Homo sapiens: one gene and its partner. The protein of the gene in region 2 purifies or fractionates together with the protein of the main gene of each other region. This does not show direct contact. Each region holds a gene or a part of one and is shown on either strand. Other genes may lie near its edges.

What was found. Proteins that work in one complex are often made in the same cells at the same time.
Region 1: the proteins of NIPSNAP3A (region 2) and PRORP purify together in Homo sapiens (affinity purification with mass spectrometry; one large-scale study listed by BioGRID and IntAct). This does not show direct contact.

What each region holds. Positions count from the first base shown.
Region 1 is NC_000014.9:35,178,023-35,181,555, reverse strand, and holds part of PRORP (mitochondrial ribonuclease P catalytic subunit isoform 1 precursor), read right to left. Parts: intron 887-3,533; coding exon 779-886; intron 1-778.
Region 2 is NC_000009.12:104,746,533-104,750,498, forward strand, and holds the start of NIPSNAP3A (protein NipSnap homolog 3A), read left to right. Parts: upstream 1-1,150; 5' UTR 1,151-1,260; coding exon 1,261-1,320; intron 1,321-3,966.

The DNA of each region.
Region 1 (3,533 bases), on a different chromosome or scaffold from region 2:
ACCTTGGCCTCCCAAAGTGCTGGGGATTACAGGCATGAGCCACTGTGCCCAGCCAGCGGCAGCAATTTTTAAGAAATAGTTTAATTACAGATGAATGGCTATAGATTGCCAATGATAAGAGCCACAAGTCTGAAACCCAGGAGCTCTCTACAATCTAATTTTGATGTTATGACTGTTTTCTATAGATTTACTATACAAAATTAGCCTCAATTTTTTAATCTACAAAATAGAGATTAAAGTAACTGTTAATTGCAGCTATGAAAAATGATAGTCTTATTAGAAACTAGTAGGGCATTTATAAATTAACAAATGGCTACCATATAGAAAAAAAAACTGCTTAGGTTAATTTATGAACATACTATGTTTGGAAAAAACAAATGTGAGTAATGAGTGATTAATATCTCTTGATATTGTATATTGATAATTTTCAAATATAAGGATATGACCCAAAGGGAAATGACAGAGCGACCCCAAAGAGAAAGCAGAGACCCAGGAGAAGGTTAGCTAAAGGTTACACGAAACGGGAAAATCTGGCCCTGTATTGCAATCTTTCTTTTAATTCCTCACTTTTAATTGTTTTCTCCCAGCCTTGAAGAGCGACTTATTAGTGATGAAAATAGTAAATCTTAGGGGAGCATGCAGTTGGTCACTGTGGCACCCTGAAGACCTTAGTTTTAGAGGAAGAAAAACTGAGGAGCTAAGAGCCCCAAGAAGGTCATAAATGGGTATAATAAATATTTCTAGAGATGTGGAATAACAAAGTAAAACTTATACTTACAAGTTGAGATTCACGAACTTTAGGAAACATTTTGGCAACATTGAGACCATCAATGACAACATCAAAAGGAGGACGAGATTTTATGAAGTTCTCAAATCTCTTAAGTTCCTAATAAAGAAATGTCAGACAAAACATTAATAAGAACTCAGTAAGGACTTTATTATAAACACACTGCAGTGACCTTTATTATTGTTTTGATAATTCAAAATATTCATCCCTTAAAAATACACACACACACACACACACACACAGATACTCTACAAATGAAATCTGAAAAAGCCAGTCTAATGGATGCAACTGCATACAATTATCCAATACACTCTATAATCTCATAGTGCTTTATACTGCACAAAGCACTTTCATATGTAATTTCATTTGATCTGCAGCTGGCCTATCTAGACTTCTAAATTAACCCACATGATAGTTATGATAAGAATGAACTGGCGGTTCCAAGATGGCCGAATAGGAACAGCTCCAGTCCACGGCTCCCAGCGTGAGCGATGCGGAAGATGGGTGATTTCTGCACTTTCAACTGAGCTTTGAAGAGAGCAGTGGTTCTCCCAGCACGGAGTTTGAGATCTGAGAATGGACAGACTGCCTCCTCAAGTGGGTCCCTGACCCCCGAGTAGCCCAAGTAGGGGCAGACTGACACCTCACACGGCCGGGTACCCCTGAGACGAAGCTTCTAGAGGAACGATCAGGCAGCAATATTTGCTGTTCAGCAATATTCGCTGTTCTGCAGCCTCCGCTGCTGATACCCAGGCAAACAGGGTCTGGAGTGGACCTCCAGCAAACTCCAGCAGACCTGCAGCTGAGGGTCCTGACTGTCAGAAGGAAAATTAACAAACAGAAAGGACTTCCACACCAAAACCCCATCTGTCTGTCAACATCATCAAAGACCAAAGGTAGATAAAACCATAAAGATGGGGAAAAAACAGAGCAGAGAAGCTGAAAATTCTAAAAATCAGAGCACCTCTCCCCCTCCAAAGGAACGCAGCTCCTCGCCAGCAACAGAACAAAGCTTTGCGATGACTTTGATGAGTTGAGAGAAGAAGGCTTCAGACGATCAAACTTCTCTAAGCTGAAGAAGGAAGTTCGAACCCATTGCAAAGAAGCTAAAAACCTTTAAAAAAGATTAGATGAATGGCTAACTAGAATAACCAGTGTAGAGAAGTCCTTAAATGACCTGATGGAGCTGACAACCATGGCACGAGAACTACGTGACGAATGCACAAGCTTCAGTAACCGACTCGATCAACTGGAAGAAAGGGTATCAGTGATGGAAGATGAAATGAATGAAATGAAGCAAGATGAGAAGTTTAGAGAAAAAAGAGGAAAAAGAAATGAACAAAGCCTCCAAGAAATATGGGACTATATGAAAAGACCAAATCTATGTCTGATTGGTGTACCTGAAAGTGACAGGGAGAATGGAACCAAGTTGGAAAACACTGCAGGATATTATCCAGGAGAACTTCCCCAACCTAGCAGGCAGGCCACCATTCAAATTCAGGAAATACAGAGAATGCCACAAAGATACTCCTCAAGAAGAGCAACTCCAAGATACATAATTGTCAGATTCACTAAAGTTGAAATGAAGGAAAAAATGTTAAGGGCAGCTAGAGAGAAAGGTCAGGTTCCCCAGAAAGGGAAGCCCATCAGACTAACAGCGGATCTCTAGGCAGAAACTCTACAAGCCAGAAGAGAGTGGGGGCCAATATTCAACATTCTTAAAGAAAAGAATTCTCAACCCAGAATTTCCTATCCAGCCAAACTAAGCTTCATAAGTGGAGGAGAAATAAAATGCTTTACAGACAAGCAAATCCTGAGAGATTTTGTCACCACCAGGCCTGACCTAAAAGAGCTTCTGAAGGAAGCACTAAACGTGGAAAGATACAACCGGTACCAGCCACTGCAAAAACATGCCAAAACGTAAAGACCATCGATGCTAGGAAGAAACTGCATCAACTAATGAGCAAAATAACCAGCTAACATCACAATGACATGATCAAATTCACACATAATATTAACCTTAAATGTAAATGGGCTAAATGCTCCAATTAAAAGACACAGTCTGGCAAACTGGATAAAGAGTCAAGATCCATCAGTGTTGCTGTATTCAGGAGACCCATCTCACATGCAGAGACACACATAGGCTCAAAATAAAAGGATGGAGGAAGATCTACCAAGCAAATGGAAAACAAAAAAAGGCAGAGGTTGCAATCCTAGTCTCTGATAAAACAGACATTAAACCAACAAAGATCAAAAGAGACAAAGAAGGCCATTACATAATGGTAAAGGGATCAATTCAACAAGAAGAGCTAACTATCCTAAATATATATGCACCCAATACAGGAGCACCCAGATTCATAAAGCAAGTCCTCAGAGACTTACAAAGAGACTTAGACACCCACACAATAATAATGGGAGACTTTAACACTCCACTGTCAACATTACACAGATCAACGAGACAGAAGTTAACAAGGATATCCAGGAATTGAACTCAGCTCGGCATCAAGCGGACCTAATAGACATCTACAGAACTCTCCACCCCAAATCAACAGAATTTACATTCTTCTCAGCACCACATCGCATTTATTCCAAAATTGACCACATAGTTGGAAGTAAAGCACTCCTCAGCAAATGTAAAAGAACAGAAATTATAACAAACTGTCTCTCAGACCACAGTGCAATCAAACTAGAACTCAGGATTAAGAAACTCACTCAACCGCTCAACTACATGGAAATTGAACAACCT
Region 2 (3,966 bases):
GTAAATATCTGTTGAATAAGTAAATGGATTGGCAATTACAGGGTTTAAAAAAAAAGGTCTAAGAAAATAATTTACTCATATAGATCCAGTCCTGATACAAATGATTTTTTTAGTCTTGCATGGTTACAAATAGATGTCTCTCTTCTAGAAAAACTGAGGCAACCCTTCCGAAATAACTAATTTTAAAAAGTCTCCCTTCCTTTGAACAGACAATTCCAAAGCTCTTCCACAAGGCACAACCAATACAACCCAGGTCATGGCCCTGCAATCCCTCCCTAGTCCTCATGATGTAAGCAATATTACATTAATGTTTACAATAATGTAATTATTAGCAAGAATAATGTAAACATTAATATAGATTACTGTAAATTAATAGTGTAATTAATTACTGTAAATTAACATAAGCATTATTAGATGCAGGAAGACAAGTGAATTTGGGGGCAGTGGCATCTATGAGACATAAATCCTCATCTGCCACAGAAGGAAGTCAACACATACTATCCATAACTGAAAATGCAATAAACAGCAGAAAACACTACTTACTTAAAAATACAGAAACAAGCATTAAATGAAACAGCTTGAAATGTTGAAGGTGGTTACTCTGGGAACCAACACTCCCGGACTGGGAGGACTAGACCAGGGTATGTTTAACTTTGACTTTTTCATTTCAGGCTCGATGCTGCCATTTCTCTGAGCTCGTGGAAAATTTAATCTAAATCTTAATTAGGAGCCTTCTAAGATGGAGAACACATTCATTGCAGAGAGGTCAGGCTCAAATACACGTCTATCACAACATCTAAAACTTAACTCGGAAAAAACCTCCACGATTTTAAATACAAAGCACTGCACATGCACGCACTCAACACCTCTCCTTCTTTCCCCATGGTCAACACACCCACAACCCCTGCACATTTACCAATCTACACAACTGAGCACTGGAGCGAATGAGGTGAGTGAGGGCCCAGAAAGTTGAAGCAGGAACGATCCGAGCCTTCAGTTAATCCTAACGTCACCTCTAACGTTTGGGGTAAGAACGTTTCAGGAAACCAAGGGGGAACCAACGCTCAGCACAGCAGAGAAAGACACCAAGCTACGGGACCCGCCGCGCCTCCCGCGCCGGGGTGGAGCTGACCCCGCCGAGCCCCGCCCCAGCCTGCGTCTGCCAATGATCCAGGAGCCGCTCCTTTCCACTCGGGAAACCTTCAGAGGAGTCTCAGAAAGGACACGGCTGGCTGCTTTTCTCAGCGCCGAAGCCGCGCCATGCTCGTCCTCAGAAGCGCCCTGACTCGGGCGCTGGCCTCACGGACGCTGGCGCCTCAGGTACCGGCCACGGGGGTACCCAAGCCTTCACCCGACGGGAGGGGAGGGGCGGGGCGGGGAGTGTTCCGGGTACGTGCGAGCAATGCGCATGCGCTCTCCGCCACGCGCGCCCAGACCTGGGGCCCCGGTGAGGTTCTAGCGTGAGCCCCGGAACCCCAAGACAGGGGTACCCGGAACGCGCGTGAGGAGGAGGCCGCTGCTAGGGGAATACCCCCAGCCGGGGTCGTCTCGCGGGCAGTGGTGGTCAGAAGGCTTTTCTAGCCTGGATGCCACACCCACCGGGACACTCCCATGGCGCCGGCTGTTTCGTTTTTGCTGCCCAGCTATGTCGCGGCTGCGGCCCAGCGAGCGCTCCCATGTTGTCACCTGGCGCTGTGGAGCCGCGGGTGGAGTCGTAGCTTTCCAAGCCACCGCCCTCTCTAGACATCAGGTTGAAGGAGGGAATTGTCAACCAGCCGCTTGCCACGGAACCGGCCTCCCCCTTTTAAATGAAGCACACAACTTCCGAGCATTTCGCGGAGACCCTTGAAGAGGAGGCCCAGGGTCCCGGTGGGGCTGGACCCTGCCCGCCACCCGCGCTTCGTGTGGTCGCTCCCCCAACCAGGCGGGACCGGAGCCTCCTATCAAACCGGACGATGACAGACAGACTCTTTTAACCTTAGATGAGAAATGGACAAAATGGAGCTTGTGATTCTGCCCTAACTTTCGGGAGTGGCCTATTCTGTGGCTTCAACCTAGAAATTTCTTTTCCTTTTGATGTTTAGGACTTTACTCCTTTCTGAAGGGGCAGGATGGGAAGGGGATTAACCTGTCCTAGAGACAGACTGAGGAGCACTAAAGAAGAGCAGCTCATGTCCATTCACCCCGGGTTAACAATGCAGTTTTTACCCTAATGATTCTCCAGTGGGGCAGGGCCAGGAATGACGTCCTTATGGCATGATTCCAAACTTTAAGTTTTTAGAAATGTCCATCAGTTGTTCTCTTTTAAGTGAAGTGGAGGTCGTTGCTGGTGGGAATGATCCCTAACTTGGAGATAAGGGAGGATGGACGACTCATGATTTCTGCCCTAGCAGCTAAAAGTCATCCCTGCAACAAAATTCTTAACTCCCATCCGGCTCCCCCACCATACCCGGCTCCCCTGCAGTCTTCCTTCTCTGGCACCACCTGTCCACATCTCTCTCCCTCTCTCACTGTAGGTTCCCTACTGTATATTAATACTGCCCAAAATTGTAAAAATGTGTACCTTTGATCAACTATTTTATCCTCCAAATACAAATTCCTCGAATCAACCTGAAATCCATTTGTCACAAATGCCCCATTGGCCTATCTCCTGATATATTTTATTATAATAATTTTGAAATTATGGATACTAGGCACTTGCTTCTTGACCAACATTGTTACTAGAGTTTGGTTTAAAAGCACAAAAAGAGTGTCCACAAAAGGCAGGGGCAGCTGCAGCTGTTTTTGTTGGTAGGCTTAGTCATTTGAGCAATAAGAATATAAGTCACACACGAATAGAATTAACTCTAGATAATTATCATTAAGCCTTATCATACACAGTTACATAATTTTGTATTTTGTAAACAAAAATATGTCGGAGCAAAAGCCTACTGCTTTCAGACAGACATACTGGCTAGTCAGTATAAGCCCTAATTTGTCCATAGCTTTGTAGGTATCAAAACTGTCTTCACAGATTATTCTGGTGTAATCAACTTAAGGAAATGGCACATGCTATTCAAACTTAAGTAAGATGGATTTATAAGAATATCACGAATGCCTGTGTGTATACCATGAGTGCATATATATATGTGTGTGTGCGTATGTGTGTGTGTATGTGTATACATATATACACATAGATACCTACATAGAGGATAATCTTAGGCGAGGTATTTCTTACAGAAAGTTCAACCAGAACACAAATTAGAAATTTACAGTGCGTGTATGACTATTACAAAAGGAATTAATGGTTCTTAAGTGATATTTTCATCAATGTGGTATAAGTGGATTCATTAAATGTTGTTCACATTGCATCTGTAATTAGAAACTAATAAGAAAATTTTGACTCTGAATTTTCTTTTCTCAGCATTCATGTTCTACCATTATATTACAATGCAATTGGATAGGTCAGAGCTTTTTATTGCATTAGTTACATTCCAGTCCTAATTTTGGTCAGTGGTTTACTTCATTGAATTAGGAAATACTTTGACCTGAACTGTAATTTCCATTTTTTTCAAGAACCTAAAAGAGTTTTCTTCTAGTAAACATTTTTTTCATTATGCCTGCCAAAAGTTACGTGCGTAGTTAATAAAGTTCTTTGATGTGCATAACTGTAACACGTATGCTCTTGACTAAAGATGCAATATTGGCTAATAGGAAAACTTTTGTAAATTTGTTAGAATCCTAATTGTAGTTCTTGGATAAAGAAGTATCATTAAGATCTCAGCGCCTTCTTATGAGCAATTTCTGAAAAAGTGGCTAAAGGTGACAGTGAACCCCCACTAGGAAACAGTAACTACACACTCAGCATATTTAAGAGTAGTTGTCTTTATTGACACCTCTATGTAAACAAATGTATATGTGAAGCAGGAGAATAGGGTCTTGAGGCAGGGAACCTAAGGACTTCCTAGAACTAAATCAAACCCTTCA